2 separate regions of the Homo sapiens genome follow, and region 1 is linked to region 2. A link means that fine-mapping ties the variant in region 2 to the expression of a gene that starts in the linked region. Tissue or cell type: whole blood. Region 2 holds a variant in brackets; the other region holds the start of a gene. All regions are shown on one strand. Distances are from middle to middle.

Region 1 (10,575 bases), 24 kb before region 2:
AGCTTCCTAGACTCACTCTCTTTTTTTTTTTTTTTTTTTTTTTTTTGAGACAGAGCCTTGTTTTGTTGCCTAGGCTGGAGTGCAGTGGCACAATCTTAGCTCACTGCAACCTCCACCTCCCGAGTTCAAGTGATTCTTCTGCCTCAGCCTCCCAAGTAGCTGAGATTACAGGCACGCACAACCACGCCCAGCTAATTTTTGTATTTTCAGTAGAGACGGGGTTTTGCCATGTTGACTAGGCTGGTCTCGAACTCCTGACCTCAGGTGATCTGCCCGCCTTGGCCTCCCAGCATCCTGGGATTACAGTCGTGAACCACCGCACCCAGCCGCTAGGCTCACTCTCTCTGGAATCTCCTCCTCCATCTCAGACCACTCACTCTCTGAGTTAGACCCATGCTTTTCCCTGCCATTCATATCTGTCAGCCACACAGGGTTTCAGAGAGGAACCCCAGGAAGCACGTGCACACCCCCAAAGTCTCTTGTGGATGTCTGTGTGGGGTTGCCCTGTGGCACAAAATTTGAACAGAAGGCAATGGGTCTCCACCCCACTGCCATCACTGCCTCTGCCTCCTGAGACTCTGTTTGGCAATGAAAACTGGCATAATGGCTGCTAAAGCCCAAGCCTTGGAAACTCTCATGGCCGGGTCTGATTGCACGTGACAGAGGTCTGTGGTCTCCTCGCCACATTTGGACAAGCTGAGCCAATCAGCTCTTTGGCTGGAGATTTAGACAGCAGATATTCACTTCTTCTTTTTAGAACTGAAAGGACTTTTAGAAGTAATTCTGGGTTGCCAGGCATGGTGGCTCACACCTACCATCCCAGCTACTCAGGGGGCTGAGGTGGGAGGATCACTTGAGCCCAGGAGTTCTGGGCTGCAGTGTACTATGCAGATAGATCAGGTGTCTGCACTAAGTTTGGCATCAATATGGTGATCTCCTGGGAGTGGGGAACCACCAGGTTGCCTAAGGAGGGGTAAACTGACTTAGGTTGGAAATGGAGCAGGATAAAACTCCCGTGCTGATTGGTAATGAGATCACATCTGTGAATAGCCACTGTACCCCAGCCTGGGCAACAAAGCAAGACCTCATCTTTTACAAATAAAGGAAGAAAGAAAGAAAAGAAAGAAACCTGGGTTGAGCATACTACGTGATGACCCCTTTGCCTTCAGCGCATGGACCAAATCTACATCATTCTTTTTTTTTTTTTTTTTTTTGAGACAGAGCCTTGCTCTGTCACTCAGGCTGGAGTGCAGTGGTGCCATCTCAGCTCACTGCAATCTCCACCTCCCGGGTTCAAGCAATTCTCATGCCTCAGCCTCCCAAGTAGCTGGGATTACAGGATTACCACACCCAACTAATTTTTGTATTTTTAGTAGAGATGGGGTTTCACTTTGTTGGCCAAGCTGGTCTCGAACTCCCGACCTCAGGTGATCTGCCCACCTTGGCCTCCCCAAGTTCTGGGATTACAGGTGTGAGCCACCACACCTGGCCTCTCCTGACCTCAAATAAACTTCTGGAAAGAGTTGACTATCCTGGGCCAGGCATGGTGGCTCATGCCTGTAAACCCAGCACTTTGGGAGGCTGAGGCAGGTGGATCACTTGAGGTCAGGAGTTCGAGACCAGCCTGGACAACACGGTGAAATCCCATCTCTACTAAAAATACAAAAAACTAGCTGGGCGTGGTGGTGGATGCCTGTAATCCCAGCTACTTGGGAACCTGAGGCAGGAGAATCACTTGAACCCGGGAGGCGGAGGTTGCAGTGAGCTGAGATCATGCCACTGCACTCCAGCCTGGGCAACAAGAGCAAAACTCCATCTCAAAAAAAGAGAAAGAGCTGACTATCCTCATTGTTTTCATTATGTCCTCCTTACCTATCAGCAATCTAGCTTGCCTACCCTCCACTCCATCAAAACTGCTCTCAGTATGTTCCAGTAATCTCCTAATTACCCAATGCAACTTCTAATCCTTATCTTCCTGGACTGCTCTGAACCATTTAGCATGGAACTAAACTCATTATCTCTCCCCTTCCCAAACATTCATTCTCCCTTACTCTCTCAGCTAGTGGCACCATCATTCATACAGTGACCCGTGATGGAAAGCCACCATAAGATAATTCTAGCTTGGACTTGTTGAGTTTGCAGTGCCTTTGAGACATTCAAAACAAAGATGCCCATTGGGCAGTTAAACATGTGAATTAGATGCCCAAAGTTTGAGATAAGATGAATGCTACAGAAGTAGCATTTAAAGCCATGAACATGGATGAATTTGCCTGGCCCACAGAGTACAAGTACCAGGTCTTTAAATCCCAGTTGACCCATAGAGACTAACCTGTTATGTGATTTTCCTTACTTCTCTGTTGATTCCCCATTGCTCACAACTCCTTATCATGGCATGAAAGTTTCATCACAATCTGCACTTATTGCATCTATATAATGTGTATCAGTTAGCTTTTGCTGCAGCCATGCTGCATAACAAACAACCCCCAAATCTTAGCTTTTGGCCACAAAAGTCTATTTATTTTTCACATAACATATTAGTGCCCAGAAATCCCTATTCCTGAGGTCATTATTCCAACCACCATTTGGTTCTTTCCTTCCCAAGCCCTGGCCCATAATGGTCTCCATATCACCATCTCCATATCACCATATCCCTATTCTGCCCTGACTCATGTTATTTTCTCCAAAAACTCTTAAAATTCAATCGTAAAAAATAGAAGGTAGGCCGGGCGTGGTGGCTCACACCTGCAATCCCATCATTTTGGGAGGCTGAGGTGGTCAGATCACAAGGTCAGGAGTTTGAGACCAGCCTGGCCAACATGGTGAAACCCCAACTCTACTAAAAATACAAAAGAAAATTAGCCAGTGTGGTGGCAGGTGCCTGTAATCCCAGCTACTCAGGAGGCTGAGGCAGGAGAATCGCTTGAACCCGGGAGGCAAAGGTTGCAGTGAGCCAAGATCATGCCACTGCACTCCAGCCTGAGTGACAGAGCAAGGCTCCATCTCAAAAAAAAAAAAAAAAAAAAAAAAAAAGAGAGAGAGAATCGCTTGAATGAACCTAGGGGGCAGAGATTGCAGTGATTCAAGATCCCACCATTCCAGCTTGGGAGACAGAATGAGACTCTGTCTCAAACAAACAAAAAAAAGAGTTGTCAAATCAAACACGTAAGATTTGTAGGTTTTACAACTGGGCATGGTGGCTCACACCTGTAATCCTACCACTTTGGGAGGCGGAGGTGGGTGGATCACCTGAGGTCAGGAGTTCGAGACCAGCCTGGCCAACAGGGTGAAACCCTGTCTCTACTAAAAATTAAAAAATTAGCTGGGTATGGTGGTGCACGCCTGTAATCCTAGCTACTTGGGAGGCTGAGGTGGGAGGATTGCTTTAATCTGGGAGGTGGAGGTTGCAGTGAGTCAAGATAGCATCACTGCACTCCAGCCTGGGCAACAGAGGGAGACTGTCTCAAAAAAAAGAAAGAAAATAAGTTTTACATATCCAACCTAAAATAAAAGGAAAGTACAGGGCAAAGAGTACATTCATTTCAGATAAAATTATATTTATGAGTTTATACCTCTATTAATGTCCAGTCCCCTACTGAAAGCTGCCCCCTCCTTCGGTTGTTCTCCCCTCACCTCTGCCCCGTCTCCATGACATTTGTCCATTAGCCATTTTTTAGCCATCATGAGAGGTGATGTAATGGAAAAAGCACCAACCTTAGAGCCAGAACTGCATTCAAATCCTAGCTGCCATTTAGTTGCTGAGTGCCCATATGTTTCTTGGTCTCTCTCAGCCTTCCTTTCCTCAACTAGAAAATGGGTTAGCCTGAGGGGCTGCTCAGCCCACAGCCCCTCAGGCTCCAGTCTTAGAAGGCTGGACGAAGGCAGGGACGGGCGCAGAATGGGGACAGAGACTGAGTCCGTTCTGACATAGAAGTAGCAACAAGAACAAAAGCAGGGACACAGGCAGGTACCTAGTCTACTCAGTTGGGCCAGGGAACCTCATTATTTTTTACCTCAACCTGTGAGACCAACTCACATAAATGGTCCCACTAAAGGTCTGGAAGTGCTCAGAGGATGAGATTCACAGGCTTCTTCTCCCAGAAGGGCCAGAAGGCAGCCCTGTGGCCCTGGAGTTGGAGTGTAGGAGAGCTGGTGGTAAGAGCTGGGGAAATGGCTGCTCAGAGCCACCATGGCCAGACAAAGGCAGCTCCTAGCCTATGATTTAGGGGACAGGTCTCCTGGTAAGGTGTGGCCACTAGAGAAGTTTGCCCAAATCACGTTGCACACTTCTGGACCTCAGCTACTCCACCAAAAACTGGATCAGGTTGGATCTGAGCAATCTGACATCAAAAACGTTCTCAGGAGTTTCCCAATACATAGAGGAGATAAAGGAAGAACAGAACTGGTTCTGTCTGAAATAAGATAGGGAAGGGGCCAGAGCCCTGTCCTCTAGGTTCCCCTCCCCTACCATGGTGGCCCTTGAGGCAGGATGCCGGGCCTTACAGGACAGAGTTGAAACTTCTGGACTGGGCAATCCCTAGGGACTCGTTCAGCTCTGCCTTATTCAGTCATTGAGCACCTGTTACATGTAAATGAGATAACTTAGATCCACATGCTGCCCCCATCTGGTAGAGGAGGCAAAATTCACCCAGATGTAACTCCGAAAGAGGTAGAAAGTGCCTGATGTAGTCAAAGAAGCACAGAAATGCAGCAGAATAACCCTGTCCTCCACACCCCCCACTCCCAGAGCCCTCCTTCGCCATGCACTTGCATTTCCTTACTCAGAGACTGGAAGGAAGGTCTCCAGTAGTATCCTTATTTCACAATCGGGGAAACTGAGGCTCTGTCTGGGAAGGTGGTTCCTTACTGGCAGCAAGCGGCAGGCCAGGGCTGCACCCTACATCTCCTGCTTCCTCAGACACGCCTGTTTCCAGGTAAAGGAAGGAGGCAGCCCGGCCTGCTCAGGAGCCCGAAGGAGTGCAAAGGAAGAGCAAAGCCTCAAAACACCTGCCTCGGGTCTCGGTTCCTTCCTGCCGGAGGAGCGGCTCTCACACCCTCCGCGCCTCCCAGTCCCTCCCGGCCGCCACAGCGGGAAGATCGAGGAATCTCAAATCCCTCTGCTTCTCTGGCTCTTTGCGCGCTGACATTTTTTTCTTCTTCTTTTTACTGTTTTTTTTTTTTTTACTTTCTTCAAGAGTTTGTGCAATCATTGTGTTTAGCCGTTTTCCTGCCATTTCCAAACGCGGGGTGGTGTCCTTTTCGAGTAGGAGCAAGGTTTGAAGAGTTGGAGGAAACTCCCGCCTCCCATCGCCCCAGTGCTGCAGGCACCCCGGATGCCAAAGTTAGTGTCGGAAACTTTCCCCATGCTGGGCGTCTGACTGAGTCCTCGGCTCTCCGAAGCTCTCTGACATCTCCCTCTCTATTCCCTTCCTCCTTGGGGTTCCTGCGACCCTCACTTTATCCCCCCACTCCCAGATTCCCCTTCCCAGAGGCGCGCCCTTCCTATCTTGTCCTGGGCAAGAGCCATTCCTCTGTCCTGCCCCACAGGCAAGGACAGACCCCTCACTCACTGCGACTTACTTGGTCGCATCCTGTGTCCCCTGCGTCTCCCCTCTCTTCCCCCACCCCAACCCCGCGGACCCGTGGGGGAACCTCAGCTTGCAGCTCTTCAGGCTCCAGTCTTGGAAGGCTGGACAGAGGGAGGGACGGCCACAGGATGGGGACAGAGGGACAGAAACTGGGTCCGATTTGGCACCGAGGTAGCGACAAGAACAAAAGCAGGGACACAGGCAGGGCAGACACCGGGCAGCGCCGGAGCAGCGGCCCGCCTCCACTCCCTCACCACCCTCTCCCAAGCGCGGAGCCCCCCGTCCGTGTCCTGCTCGTGGCCTCCGGGGACCTGGGCGGCTCCCCGCGGGACCCACCTGATCCGCAGAACCAGGGCGCCGAGGGCCGGCGCGCGGTGAGCTGGGCTGAGCAGGACCGCGCCCAGCTCCCGGCCCCGGCGAAGCCCTACGCGCTCTGATCAGCCACCGCGCCGCCTCCGCCCGAGCGGAGGCGCGTCCTCCCGCCCGTGGGCCGGCCGGCCGGGCTTCTGCTCTGGGCAGAGCGCAGCGGGTAGGGGCGCGAGGAGCCGGCGAGCGCTGACAGCGGGCTGCGCCAAGCCGGTCCCCGCCCCGGACACAGACAGCTGGAAGGCCGGCGAGCGAGTGCGTGAGTGAGAGTGTGTGTGTGCCGGGGAGGCGGATAAAATCCCCGGTGAGAGTGGCTGGGCCTCTTTTGCCTTCTCGGGCCTGCACGTGGTGGTGGTGGTGTAGGTGATAGAGCAGGAACCCCGGGCGTTGGAGGATGGGGTGGGGTCTGTGCTGTGCTGCTGGGAGGGGCTGCGCTGCGCTGGCGCACGGCCAAACTCTGGGAAACTCAGAGCCTTGGAGATCTGATCCACCGTTTGTTTCCCGAGGAAGGAAGAGCGCGAATGTAGACAGCGGCAGGCCGGGGCTGGAGTCGCTCTTGCGAGAGTCCTGAGCTCTGGAAGTGAGGGCTGGGCGTTGGGCACCTGGTTCAGGGTCTGCCCGCGTTTGCGCACTGACTTCATGATCTGTGAGCCCAGAGTGTCTCAAACGGGGCTCTAAGGCAGCCCCTAGGCTGTGGAATAACTCTTTAGTAGAATTATGTAGAAAGGAATCCAAACATTCGATTTCAGAGTGTGCGCTTCTGTGCCCAGTGTGGCAGCAATTCACTCAGAGAGTTGCTGTGGCCACAACTGGCTGCCCTCAGTTCTCTTGTCTTATACTGATAGCGACAAGGTCTTCTCACTCCCGCTCATATCAATCTACTTTACAGGTGGAAAAGTCAGAACTTCATTTTGCCATTTGCCGTTGAACGTCATTTTCATAGACTAAGAAATTCGCTTCTTAAATAATTCGGCCGGGCGCGGTGGCTCACGCCTGTAATCCCAGCACTTTGGGAGGCCGAGGTGGGCGGATTGCTTGAGCTCAGGATTTCCAGACCAGCTTGGGCAACGTGGCGAAACCCCGTCTCTACAGAATATAGAAAAATTCCCCAGGCCTGGTGGCGTGCACCTGTAATCCCAGCTACTCGGGAGGCTGGAGACTGAGAAAGAAAAGAAAAAATAAAAAATAAATACAAATAAAAATCAAACTGCCAGGCCAGGCGAGGTGGTTCTAGCTTGTAATCCCAGCAGTTTGGGAGGCCAAGATGGGTGGATTACCTGAGGTCGGGAGTTCGAGAGTAGCCTGGCCAACATGGTAAAACCCTGTCTCTACTAAAAATACAAAAAATTAGCTGGGCATGGTGGCACACGCCTATAATCCCAGCTACTTGGGAGCCTGAGGCAGGAGAATCACTTGAACCCAGGAGGTGGAGGTTGAAGTGAGCCGAGATTGCGCCACTGCACTGCAGCCTGGGTGACAGAGCGAAACTCAGTCTTAAATGAATAGACAAACAAACAAACAAAAAAATCAAACTGCCATGAAAACTACTTTACCCAAAATTTTAGTTCACAGCCTTCATTGGATTATCTATTGGGGCAAACAAAGTAAAACCAGCGAGCTTGTATTGCTATCTCATGGCTACAGTTCCAAGCTATTGGATCTTTGTTTGTGTCGGTATATACATGTCTAGATGTGTTTATTTGTAGGTACACTTACTGTTATATCTTGTGCCTACCAAATTGGCATATAAATAAAAGAGTGCTCATAAATTAACTAAATAAGTCTAAGCAATTTTCAAGTTCATATGACTTAAGTATAACTTTAATAAACAGGCTGGTTTTAAAATTATTGGTAAAATAGAAATGCTTTCAGAATTGTCAGCATACATTTTTGTCTGGACTTTATATTTGTCTCTGCTAAATACTTTGAGGTGTCAGAGTTTGGCATAGAAGGTTATAAAACTATAAACCCAGCCAAAACAAAATGATCTTGGTTTGCGTGCTTTTTTTTTTTTTTTGACAAATGAGAGTTAATTTAATACTATTAGCTAAATCTTCTGAGTTGTTGGCAAAAATAGCTATGTATTTAACTTTGATATCCTTCCTTATGTTTAGGTGAGCACCTGATGCTCACTGGCTATTAAAAACATGGTTAGGCCGGGCACAGTGGCTCACGCCTGTAATCCCAGCACTTTGGGAAGCCGAGGTGGGCGGATCACTTGAAGTCAGGAGTTCAAGACCAGCCTGACCTCCACCTACTGGGTTCAAGGGATTCTCCTGCCTCAGCCTCCTGAGTAGCTGGGACTACAGGCACATGCCACCATGCCCAGTTAATTCTTTTATTTTTAGTAGAGACAGGGTTTCACCGTGTTAGCCAGGATGGTCTCAATCTCCTGACCTCGTGATCTGCCTGCCTCAGCCTCCCAAAGTGCTGGGATTACAGGCATGAGCCACTGGAATATTCTTAATTCATGGCAATGTGTTTGTTTGCATACAGTCGAGCAGCATCATTTGGGCCGCTCAAGGAGAAAGAACCCAGAAACCTAACATGCCAACAATAGGGTAAGAATTTCTTTCTTTTTTTTTTTTTTTTGAGATGGAGTCTCGCCCTGTCACCCAGGCTGGAGTGCAATGGTGTGATCTCGGCTCACTGCAACCTCTGCCGCCTAGGTTCAAGTGATTCTCCTGCCTCAGCCTCCGGAGTAGCTGAGATTACAGGTACCTGCCACCACACCCGGCTACTTTTTGTAGTTTTTAGTAGAGGTGGGTTTCACCATCTTGGCCAGGCTGGTCTTGAACTCCTGACCTCGTGATCCACCCACCTCGGCCTCCCAAAGTGCTGGGATTACAAGTGTGAGCCACCGCGCTGGCCTAGGGTAAGAATTTCCTACCAGTTGGACTTCTGGCCCCTCTCTCTCTCTCTGCAAACTGGTTGAATGACTTATAAAAGATTATAATAATTCATGACAATGCAAATTTTTGTAAACCTTTTACATGTTTGGTAGCCTTCCCAGGATCACATTTCAGTTCTGAGGTTGTCTTTTTTTTTTTTTTTCCTTTGGGACAGAGTCTCGCTCTATGGCCCAGGCTGGAGTGCAGTGGCATGATCTTGGCTCACTGCAACCTCCGCCTTTCATTTTCATTACATCTCTGCTTTTGTTGCTTCATTTTTTCCTTGCTTTGTTTCTGCATTTTTGTCCAATTCTTTGCTCAGAATGCCAAGAACCTACACACCCTCCACCGGTAACACTTCCTTTTTTTTTGATATGGAGTTTCGCTCTTGTTGCCCAGGCTGGAGAGCACTGGCTCGATCTCAGCTCACTGTAACCTCCACTTCCCGGGTTCAAGTGATTCTCCTGCCCCAGCCTCCTGAGTAGCTGGGATTATAGTTGTATGCCACCATGCCTGGCTAATTTTTGCATTTTTAGTAGAGACGGGGTTTCGCCATGTTGGCCAGGCTGGTCTCAAACTCCTGACCTCAGGTGATCTGTCCACCTTGACCTCCCACAGTGCTGTGATTACAGGCTTGAGCCACCACGCCTGGCCTAACACTTCTGTTAAGCCCACCTGGAGCCTACTACTGGTAGGCCCTCCCCAGTGACTTGGATAACCACCTCTTGCATTTCTTGCATTTCCTCTTCCCATCCTCTCTCACCCTGTCCTCCCTCTGTCCTCCCCTTTCTTCCTCAGATTCTCCATGTCAGAAACACCAAGGTGAGGTGGCCTCTGGCAGGCAGGGTTTGGAATGCACTTCCAGAATGTTCTTGGCAGGGAAAATGCCCTCCTTGAGATCTTGGTGGGGAAGAGAAATGTCAGTAACAGTGAGCTGGGAGGCAGGGGGAGGATCGATTTCCCCAAAGTCTGATGAGCCTTTTTCACAGAAATACCAGATAAAGGAAGTGCAAAACTTCCACAGAACTAGAAAAACACACAGCCCAGGAACCCTGAGAGATGGCCAGTCCCAGCCCTCAATTTATAGATGAGGAAACGAGATCCAGATGGCAGTGACTTCCTCACAATCACAAGCTTGGCATTTGCAGAGCTAGGTTTTGTTCCCATAGCTCTCTCACTTGCTTCTCAGCCCCACGCAGGTGGGGAAACTCCTAGGTCTTGGGGGCCTGGGGGGAGGTGTTTTAAAGAAATTCCCAGGAGTGGTAAGGTTGGTCCGGAGAAGCAGAAGGGAACGTGAGAGTAGAGTCTTGGAGGAAGTGGAATGAACAGACAGCATTTGGAAGGGGTGCGGGGCAGGGAAAAGTATGTGTGCCCTGGCACGGGAGAAGGACCGTGAGATCCCTGCAGGAGGACATTGGGCCAGAGAGGCCAGCTGAGGAGTCACAGCAGGGAGGCTTGGAAGGGGAAGACCAGGGGTTTGCATTTTATATTTTTTCCTTTTTTTTTTTTTTCTTGAGACGGAGTCTTACTCTGCCTTCCAGGCTGGAGTGCAGTGGAGCAATCTCAGCTCACTGCAACCTCTGCCTCCCGGGTTCAAGTGATTCTCCTGCCTTATCCTCCTGAGTAGATGGGACAACAGGTACTACCATGCCTGGCTAATTTTTGTATTTTTAGTAGAGACAGGGTTTCACCATGTTGGCCAGGCTGGTCTCGAACTCCTGACCTTGTGATCC
Region 2 (10,575 bases):
ATATTTGTACCCCATGTGAGGTCACACCAAAGGGTGACCTCAGCAAGGAGGAGTTTTAATATTCAAGAGGATAGGATGGCCCATTCTGTGGATATCAGTCGACCTCTTTCCCCAGCCATCCCTGTCATTGCCCAGTGGGCTCATGAACAAAGTGGTCATGGTGGCACTGATGGAGGTTATCCATGGGTTCGGCAGCTTGAACTCTCACTCATCAGAATTGACCTGGCTACTGCCACCTCTGAGTGTCCAATCTGCCAGCAGCAGAGACCAACACTGAGTCCCTGCAATGGCACAACTCCCCAGGGTGATCAGCCAGCTACCTGATGGCAGTTGATTACATTGGTCCTCTCCCATCATGGAAGGGGCAGCATTCTGTCCTTACTGGACCAGACACTCTGGATATGAATTTGGACTTATGGAATGCCTTATCCATCATCAATCATAATATTCCACATAGAATTGCTTCTTCTTTTTTTGAGACAGGGTCTCACTCTGTTGCCCAGCTGGAGTGCAATGGCATGATCATGGCTTACTACAGCCTTGAACTCTTGGCCCCATACAATCCTCCTGCCTCAGCCTCCTAAAGTGTTGGGATTACAGGCATGACCCACCATATCCAGCCTGTTTCTGATGAGGGAACACACTTCACAGCCAGAAAAGTGCAGCAATGAGCCCATGCTCATGACATTATTCACTGGTCTTACCATGTTTCCCATCATCCTGAAGCATCTGGCTTGACAGAATGGTGGCGTGGTTTTTTGTAGACTCAGTTACAGTGCCAGCTAGATGACAATAGGGCTGGGACAAGGGTCTTGAGAAGGCTGCCTAAGCACTGAATCAGCATCTGATATTTATACAGTATTGTTTTCCCCAAGCTAGTGTTACAGTCTCACCAATGCACCATAATGTAGCAGTCTCTCATTGTTCAAGGTATCATCTGGAGTTCTTTGTCTCGTGACCATGAAAATTAAGATGTGTGTACACCAAGGGTGAGATTGGAATGAAAGTTTAATAAGCAAAAGAAGAAAACTCTCTGCTGTGGAGAGGGGGCCTAAAAGAGGGTTGCCATTTTTACAGTTGAATGCAAAGGCTTCTATAGGAAACTGATGAGGGCTGGACATCTCATTTGCATAAGGTGCGAATTTCTACTAGCTCCACCCCATGCTCCTAATGTGCATGTGGGCCTTTAACTTGATTTACTCCATATTGCTTTGTTTCCCTTACTGCGCCTGTGTCAGGGGATGGAATTTTCCATTGCAGGTATGTCTAGGCAAGTTACCTGTGTAGGCTTTCTTATCTGTGCATCTGTGGGCATGTCTTAGGCAAGCCCCCATGCAAGTTCTCTTGTCTGTGTCTGCAGCTTGATTTTTCTTTTCTTTTTTTGTATTAAAAAAATGTATTTACTTAGAAGCATTCAGAATGTCAACAAAACAGCTGCAGCTTTTTTTTTTTTTTGCAATTACAGAGTGGTATTCTGTTAACAGAACAATTATTTTGTATAAGCTGCATCAGAGACAACTGAAGATGAAAAAACTACCATCCCCATATATAACTAAATTGTGCTGTGCACCAACAAGAACCTGCTTTAAATTTCCATGCCAATTTACAACCCCCATAGTGTACCAGGCAAGGTTAGTGTCTATTGAAAATACCACCAGGACAGGGCTATCTAAAGACACATTTGGTAGTGTGTTAACCATACAAAAAAAGACACTATACAGTTTAAAAACAAATCTTACAAAGCCTTGCATTTCAATTTTTTTCTTTAAAAGGAGTGAGTTGTGTACAGGGGGGTTAAATGCTTTATAGACAAGAAAAGAAACTGCGCTAGAACCAACTTATTCATCATCATCACCTTGTTCTTCATCTTCATCTTCTTCATCTTCCTCCTCCTCCTCATCCTCTTCGTCTTCCTCATCTTCCTCCTCTTCCTTCTTTTTCTTGCTTTTTTCAGCCTTGACAACTCCCTTTTTTGCTGCATCAGGCTTTCCTTTAGCTTGATATGCAGCAATATCCTTTTCATATTTTTCCTTCAGCTTTGCAGCCTTCTTTTCAGAAGGCTGCTTGCCATCTGCAGCAATGTCATTCCACATCTCTTCCAGTTTCTTTGCAACATCACCAATGGACAGGCCAGGATGTTCTCCTTTGATTTTTGGGCGATACTCAGAGCAGAACAGGAAAAGGGTCAAAGGAAGCCTCTTGGGTGCATTGGGATACTTGAACCTCTTTTTTTATCTCCCCTTTAGGAGGGATGTAGGTTTTCATTTCTCTTTCGTAATGGGCGTTGTCCACCTTTGCCATATCTTCAAATTTTCCTTTCTGTTTAGCAGGCATGGTCTTCCACCTCTCTGAGCACTTCTTAGAAAACTCTGAGAAGTTGACTGAAGCATCTGGGTGCTTCTCTTATGCTTCTCCAGACAAGTTTGCACAAAAAAATGCAAGTGAGAGCCCATCTGGCTCTCACTTGCCCCGGCACTGTCTCTATGGAGCTGAATGTACTGCAATGGCTGTGCAGCTTCGTTTTTTGGGCAGTTCTTTTGTTTGAAAGAATTTAACTGAGAATCCACCCTAACTGCCTGCCTCACCAGTTTCTTCCTTTCTCCTCTCTCATTCCCCCTCCTCAGGAGTGAAGACCATAACTGCTGTTAGGGAAGTGGGGAGATGATCCTTCTAGCTACTTTCTACTGGAGAGGGGGATTGTGTGGGGAACAGCTGGTAGGGTTCCTACTGAGGCCAGTCTAAGAGTCCTTGGAAGAAAGGTGCATCCATGTGTGGTTTCATTTGCATCACTATTTGGAGCTTGATAGCCTTTAGGAAAGAAGAAACAATTTGGATTATTAGAGGACATGTATTAAAACAAAGCAAAGGGGTGGGGGTAAGGACAGCCAAAAATCCCAAGGCTGCCAACATGCCCAGATAACTGGTAGCTATATTTCTGCCTGCTAAGATTTGGATGCATGGGGTTTGGCTTTGGTTAACTTCTTTGGTTCTATTTTCCAAAACAAAGAAAACTCTGGGTTATGGGAACTCTATTTACTCCCATCACCTGGCAGGATTTGCAGGATAATTGCTCAGAACTAGAATACTGATCTAGATTTTTACATTACCCATTTCTTTTTTTTTTCTGAGCTGCAGCCTGACATTGCTAGTTGGTTTACAGGAATAAGCAGGGTTAGTCTAAAATGTAGGCAAGAACTAAAAACAACCAAGGAGATTAGAATTTAATGACAAGTGTATAAGTTTTGAAATATAATTTGTCTCTCTCTGGTCCTCATTTTTTTAAAAACAAATCATGTTTTTAAAATTTAAAATTTTAAAAATTAAAAAAAAAATTTGCAAAATAAATGTTAGGTTTTTTTTTGTTTTTTTTTTGAGATGGAGTCTCGCTCTGCAATTCTCCTGCCTCAGCCTCCCGAGTAGCTGGGATTACAGGTGCATGCCATAACGCCTGGCTAATTTTTGTATTTTTAGTAGAGATAGAGTTTCACCATGTTGGCCAGGCTGGTTTCAAACTCCTGACCTCAAGTGATCCACCTGCCTTGGCCTCCCAAACTGCTGGGATTACAGGCGTGAGTCACCATGCCCAGCCAAACTTTAGTTTTATACTTGGCCTGATTATTTGGATAAAGTGCAACAAGAATAATTGTTTTTATATAGGCTTTTAAAATTGGCTTTGATAGAACTCTGTTCCATAAGAAATCTCAGATAGGAGTTTTTAAAGCCACGCCTAGCCATGGGTTTGTACCCTGAAATACCTATGAATTGGGTGAATTCCTCTCTTCTTATAGTTCCAAAAATATGGGGTTCTTAGACCTGTGAGAAAGTGACAATCTCTATTCACCACAGCTTAGGAACCCTGTATGGGGACGGTGTAGACAAGGTATGAGGCCAGTTTTCCCAAGGGGCTTTTATTGTCACTGTAAGTCAAGCTTGATTTACAAGGGAAGCATACCCTTCCAGTCAAAGCCAGTAAAACAACTAATTTCTCCAATTGCGTCCTGTTGCAAAATGAAATGGATTCTTATTGCACTGATGCAAACAACTATATTGCCATAAGTTAAGAGTACTCACAAATAGTTTCCAAATTTTGGAGAAGTCAGGCAGAAAGAAACAAACATGCTCCAAATTTTGTTTACAAGACTATACCTTACCTAATTATTAAAGGCTGTACATAGCTTGTTTCCTTGACTCTGAAAAACAAAACAAGGATCAGTAACTTTTTTTTGAGACAGAGTCTTGCTCTGTCACCCAGGCTGAAGTGCAGTGGCATTATCCTGGCTCACTGCAACCTCCGCCTCCCAGGTTCAAGCAATTTTCCTGCCTTAGCCTCCCGAGTAGCTGGGACTACAGGTGCCTGCCACTACTCCTGGCTAATTTTTGTATTTTTAGTAGAGATGGTGTTTCACCATGTTGGCCAGGCTGGTCTCAAACTCCTGACCTCGTGATCTGCCTGCCTTGGCCTCCCAAAGTGCTGGGATTACAGGCATGAGCCACGGTGCCCAGCCCTAGATCTGATGGCTTTATAAGGTGGAGTTTCCCTGCACAAGCTCTCTCTTTGCCTGCTGTCATCCACCTAAAATGTGACTTGCTCCTCCTTGCCTTCCACCATGAATTGTGAGGCCTCTCCAGCCATGTGGAACTCTAAGTCCAATAAACCTCTTTCTTTTGTAAATTGCCCAGTTTTGGGTATGTCTTTAGCAGCAGCATGAAAATGGACTAATAAACTCTATCTATCTATCTATCTATCCATCCTATTCATTCCATCTCTCTGGAAAACTCTGATTAATGAAACAACTAAATGCAATATGGAATCCCAGAGTGGATCTTGGACTAGAACAGGATATTAGTGGAAAAATGTAGGTAACTATTGTATTATATCAATGTTCATTTTTTTTTTTGAGATGGACTTTTGCTCTTGTTGCCCAGTTTGGAGTGCAATGGCGTGATCTTGGCTCACTGCAACCTCTGCCTCCTGGGCTCAAGTGATTCACCTGCCTTAGCCTCCTGAGTAGCTGGGATTACAGGCATGTGCCACCACATCCCGCTAATTTTTGTATTTTTAGTAGAGATGGGGTTTCTCCATATTGGTCAGGCTGGTCTCAAACTCCCAACCTCAGGTGATCTGCCCACCTCAGCCTCTCAAAGTGCTGGGATTACAGGCATGAGCCACCACGCCCAGCCCATTTTCTGGTTTTAATCACTGTGCAACAATTATGTAAGATGTTAACATTAAGGCAAGCTGGTGAGGAGTGTACCTTTTTTTTTTTTTGAGATGGAGTCTCACTGTGTAGCCCAGGCTGGAGTGCAGTGGTGCAATCTCAGCTCACGGTAAACTCCACCTCTGTGGTTCAAGTGATTCTTCTGCCTCAGCCTCCTGGGCGTGCACCACCACGCCAGGCTAATTTTTGTATTTTTAGTAGAGATGGGGTGTCACCATATTGGCCAGGCTGGTCTTGAACTTCTGACCTCATGATCCACCCGCCTTGGCCTCCCAAAGTGCTGGGATTACAGGCGTGAGCCACTGTGCCCGGCCGAGTGTACATTTTTTGTAAATTTTCTGTAGGTAATTTACAAAAGAACATTTCAAAAGAAAACCTTTTTTTTATTTAAAACATTAAAAAAAATTTTTTTTATTTCCATAGGTTTTTGGGGAACAGGTGATATTTGGTTGCACAATAAGTTCTTTCGTGGTGATTCATGAGATTTTGGTGCACCCATCACCCAAGCAGTATACACTGAACCCAATTTGTAGTCTTTTATCTGTCACCTCCTTCCCACCCTTTCCCCTTGAGTCCCCAAAGTCTATTGTGTCATTCTTAAGCTTTGCATCCTCATAGTTTAGTTTCCACTTATGAGTGAGAATTTTTTTTTTTTTTTGAGATGGAGTCTCTCTCTCACCCAGGCTGGAGTGCAGTGGCGTGATCTCTGCTCACTGTAACTTCTGCCTCCTGGGTTTAAGCGATTCTCCTGCCTCAGCCATCCGAGCAGCTTGGATTACAGGCGCCCACCACCACACCCAGCTAATTTTTGTATTTTTAGTAGAGACGGGGTTCACCATGTTGGCCAGGCTGGTCTTGAACTCCTGACCTCAAGTGATTCACCCGCCTTGGCCTCCCAAAGTGCTGGGATTACAGGCGTGGGCCACCGCATCTGGCTGAGTGAG[A/C]ATTTTTTTTTTAATTACTTGAGGTCAGGAGTTGTAGACCAGCCTGGCCAACATGGTGAAACCCTGTCTCTACTAAACATATAAAAATTAGCCAGGTATGGTAGCAGGTGCCTGTCATCCCAGCTATTTGGGAGGCTGAGGCAGGAGAATTGCTTGAACCCCAAGGCAGAGGCTTCAGTGAACCAAAATCATGCCACTGAATTCCAGCCTGGGTGACAGTGAGGCTGTCTCAAAAAAAAAAAAAAAAAAAAAAAAGATCACAGCTCACTGAAGCCCCGACCTTCCAGGCTCAAGCAATTCTCCTGCCTCAGCCTCCTGAGTAGCTGGGACTACAGGCATGCATCACCATGCCCAGCTAATTGTTTTTTATTATTTGTAGAGATGAGGTCTCGCTATGTGGCCCAGGCTGGTCTTGAACTCCTGGGCTCAAGAAATCCTCCCTCCTCAGCCTCCCAAAATGCTGGGATTACAGATATGAGCCACGGTGTCAGGCTGAAAACTGTTTTAGGGAGAGAGAAATGTATACGAATGTTCTTTGCAGTGTCATTTGCAACAGTGAAAAACTGAAAACAAGAAAAGTAGTCAGTAGTAACCAACAGATTGAACAAAGTGTAATCCTTTCATAGGATGGAATGCAATGGCACTATTTAAAAGAATGAGAAAGACCTGAATGTAGGAATATAAAAAGTTCTCTAAGATTTATTACTAGCAGGCAACATCAATATGCAGAATAGGAAGTATAGTTTGGACCCATTTCAAGCAAAATTTTAAAAAAGCATATACAGAATTTAAAAATATATATACGTGCTGACATGTGCATAAAGCTTTTTTTTTTCTGGGAAGAATCACAAGAAATTATCAACAGTGGGGAAAAGATAGTTGGGGGAAGAGACAGTTTTCATTATATAACTGTACTGTCTGCATTTTCCAATTTTATTTATGTATTTATTTTGTTTTTTCTTTTTTTGAGACAGCATCTCACTCTGTCATCCAGATTAAAGTGCAGTGACATGATCATTGCTCACTGCAGCCTCCACTTCCCAGGCTCAAGCGATCCTTCTACCTCAGCCTCCTGACTAGCTGGGACTACAGGCTCGTGCTACCATGCCCAGATAATTTTCGTGTTTTTTTGGTAGAAATGAGAGTCTCACTTTGTTGCCCAGGCTGGTCTTGAACTCCTGGGCTCAAGTGATCCTTTTGCCTTGGCCTCCCGAGGTGTTAGGATTACAGGTGTGAGCCACTGTACCCGGCTGGTTTTTTCTTTCAATGCTTTAAATATTTCACTCTCTTGTTGACATGATTTCTGACAAGCAGAAACACTAAAAATTATACAAATTATACAAAGAGTTCCCATGCACCCTTCACCCACATTGATGCTCCTTTACCTCTAGATGCCTCAGTCTGTATTTCCCCCAAAAAATAACCGCAGGCTAGTGACTAAATCAGGAAATTAAGGTCGATACAGTTCTGTTGTCTTCCACAGACCCTCATCATATTTTCCCTGAATTTACCCTCATCATATTTTCTCTGAATCACACCTTGGGTTAGTTATTGCTTCTCTTTAGTCTCCTCTAATCTGGACCACCACACCTGGCTATTTTTTGTTTGTTTGTTTTGAGATGGAGTTTCGTTCTTGTCGCCCAGGCTGGAGTGTAATGGCGCAGTCTTGGCTCACTGTAACCTCCGCCTCCCAGGTTCAAGCGATTCTCCTGCCTCAGCCTCCCAAGTAGCTGCGATTACAGGCACCCACCACCATGCCTGGCTAATTTTTTTGTATTTTTAGTAGAGATGGGGTTTCACCATGTTGGCCAGGCTGATCTTGAACTCCTAACCTCAGGTGATTCTGCCTGCCTCAGCCCCCCAAAGGGCTGCAATTACAGGAGTGAGCCACTGTGCCTTGGCCAACGCCCAGCTAATTTTTGTATTTTTTGTAGAGACAAGGTTTCACCATGTTGCCCAGGCTGGTCTTGAACTCCTAAGCTCAAGCGATCCACCTGCCTTGGCCTCCCAAAGTGCTAGGATTACAGGTGTGAGCCACTGCACCCAGGCTTTGATAGGACTCTTGATAAAGGTTGGCCAGGTTAGTCAGATGCCAAGAGGAGGGATTTTCAATAAGCAGACCTAGCAGGATTCCTGCTCCAATTGGATTCTGCAAGGACAGAAAGGGAAGCCCAAGAAAGTCCTAATCAAGCAGAGAACTCAGAGGAGCTTGACTAATATTTTGGTCAAAGGAGTGAGTCTTTGCCAATATAATCAGAGTTATTTCAAAATTTTTATCTGATAATTCCTTATTCTGTTTTATATCTGAGTCTGGTTCTGATGCCTGTTTTGCCTCTTCATGCCGTGTTTTTTTCTTGCCTTTTAGCAGACCTTGTGATTTGTTGTAGAAAGCCAGCCATCGAGTATCTGGTGGTAGGAACCCAGGTAATGAGGCTTTTAGTGTGAGGTTTCATGTTAATCTACTGAGGAGTCGGGCTGTCTGGAATGTTTCCTGCAGCTGTAGGTGCCACAGGCTTCAAATAAATTCCTCTAGTCCCTCCTTGTTGTTTTTCCTGTTGTCTTTGGTTTGCTAAGAATTCTTTTTTAAAATATTTTTTCATTAAAAAATGTTTTTGGCTGGGCACGGTGGCTCACACCTGTAATCCCAGCACTTTGGGAGGCCGGGGTGGGCAGATCACTTGAACCCAGGAGTTTGAGACCAGACTGACCAACAGGGTAAAACCCCATCTCTACTAAAAACACCAAAATTAGCTGGGCATGTGGTGGCGGCCTGTAATCCCAGCTACTCAGGAGGCAGGAGAATGGCTTGAACCTGGGAGGCAGAGGTTGCGGTAACTGATTGCACCACTGCACTCCACCTGGGCAACAGAGTGAGACTCTGTCTCAAAAAAACAAAAATAATAAAAGTAAACACTTTTTTTCAAGACAGGATCTTACTCTGTTGTCCAGGATGGAGTACAGTGATGCAGTCTCAGCTCACTGCAGCCTCCACCTCCTGGGCTCAAGCCATCTTCCCACCTCAGTCTCCTGAGTAGCTGGGACCACAGGTGTGCCCCGGCATGTACCAGCTGGGACCACAGGTGTGCACTGGCTAATTTTTTAATATTTTGTAGAGATGGGTCTTGCCATGTTGCTATGCATTCCAGGCTGGTCTTGAATTCCTAGGCTCAAATGATCCTCCATCTCAGCCTCCCAAAGTGCTGGTGATGGCAGTGGTGGCCTGTCTAGAGAAACCGCTGTCGTGACACTGGCTACAGTGGGTGAGGTGCGGCCGGCGCTGCATACTCCATGGAGCCAGTGGGGGCTGGGGGCTGGGGGCTGGGAGCAGACAGGAGCCCCACCCTTCCAGGCGCAGCGGCAGCTGCCCAATCCGTGGCTGTGGACCCAGGCATTTCTGTACTCTCGGGGGCCTGGGAAGACACCCCCTTCCCCCGCAGGCTTGGAAGTTCCTGCTCCCGTTGCCTGGCCTCTCCTTGATCTTGGAGTGAGGTTGGGGCTGAGCCCAGGCGCTGTCACAGCCCGGCCGGGTGTGGGTACACTTGGTGCAGTGCTGACACACAAGCCGCCTGCCACCTCAGCCCCTTCCAGACTTTGAACACCGATGAGCAGGGGAGGGAGGCCAAGGAGGAGCTGAGGGTTCGTACCCTTCCTCGGAGGGAAGGAAGTGTGCACCAATTGGTCCATGAGCGGCCATGAGTGGGCCTAGAAAAAGCACCACAAGTTCCCACTCCTTTCCATGGGACTGGCAGCCCAGCCCCCAGGCTTCAGGCCCTCCCTGGCTTGAAGGTGGGGCCTCACCAGGGACCTGCCTTCTCCCACCCAGGAGCCTGTCTGCCTCCTGCTGCCATTCATGGCGCCCAGTCTGTTCATGCCAAGGGGCCTGTAATCCTAACACTTTGGGAGGCTGAGACGGGCAGGTCACCTGAGGTCAGGAGTTTGAGACCAGCCTGGCCAACATGGTGAAACCCGGTCTCTACCAAAAATACAAAAAATTAGCCAGGCATGGTGGTGGGCACCTGTAACCCCAGCTACTCAGGAGGCTGAGGCAGGAGAATCGCTTGAACCTGGGAGGTGGAGGTTGTAGTGAGCCGAGATTGTGCCACTGTACTCCAGCCTGAGCAACAAGAGTGAAACTCCGTCTCAAAAAAAAAAATTTTTTTTTAAATTTTCCTTTTCAAAAATTTATAATTTTGTTTAAAAAAGACCAAGGTCTCTGTCACCCAGGCTGGAATGCAATGGCGTGATCATAGCTTACTACAGCCTTGGATTTCTGGGCTCAAGAGATCTTCCTGCCTCAAGAAAATTTTTTTTAAACATTATTTTTCTTTTCAAGAATTTATACCTTTTTTTTAAAAAAAAAACCAAGGTCTCACTCTGTCACTCAGATTGGAGTGCAATGGTGTAATCACAGC

Evidence for each region.
Region 1: GGTA1 starts here. The variant in region 2 is fine-mapped to the expression of GGTA1 in whole blood (TOPMed, PIP above 0.99).

The regions. Positions count from the first base shown.
Region 1 is chr9:121,493,729-121,504,303 of GRCh38, forward strand. It overlaps GGTA1 (glycoprotein alpha-galactosyltransferase 1 (inactive)), which reads right to left and starts at 6,116. Exons shown (of 6, transcript NM_001382585.1): 1 at 5,922-6,116. It also overlaps the pseudogene RN7SL187P. RefSeq lists silencers at 4,422-4,716, 6,066-6,165.
Region 2 is chr9:121,517,978-121,528,552 of GRCh38, forward strand. It overlaps the pseudogene HMGB1P37. Among named protein-coding and RNA genes, the nearest start is that of GGTA1, 23 kb to the left of the region's middle. The variant A/C (reference allele first, on the strand shown) is at 6,164.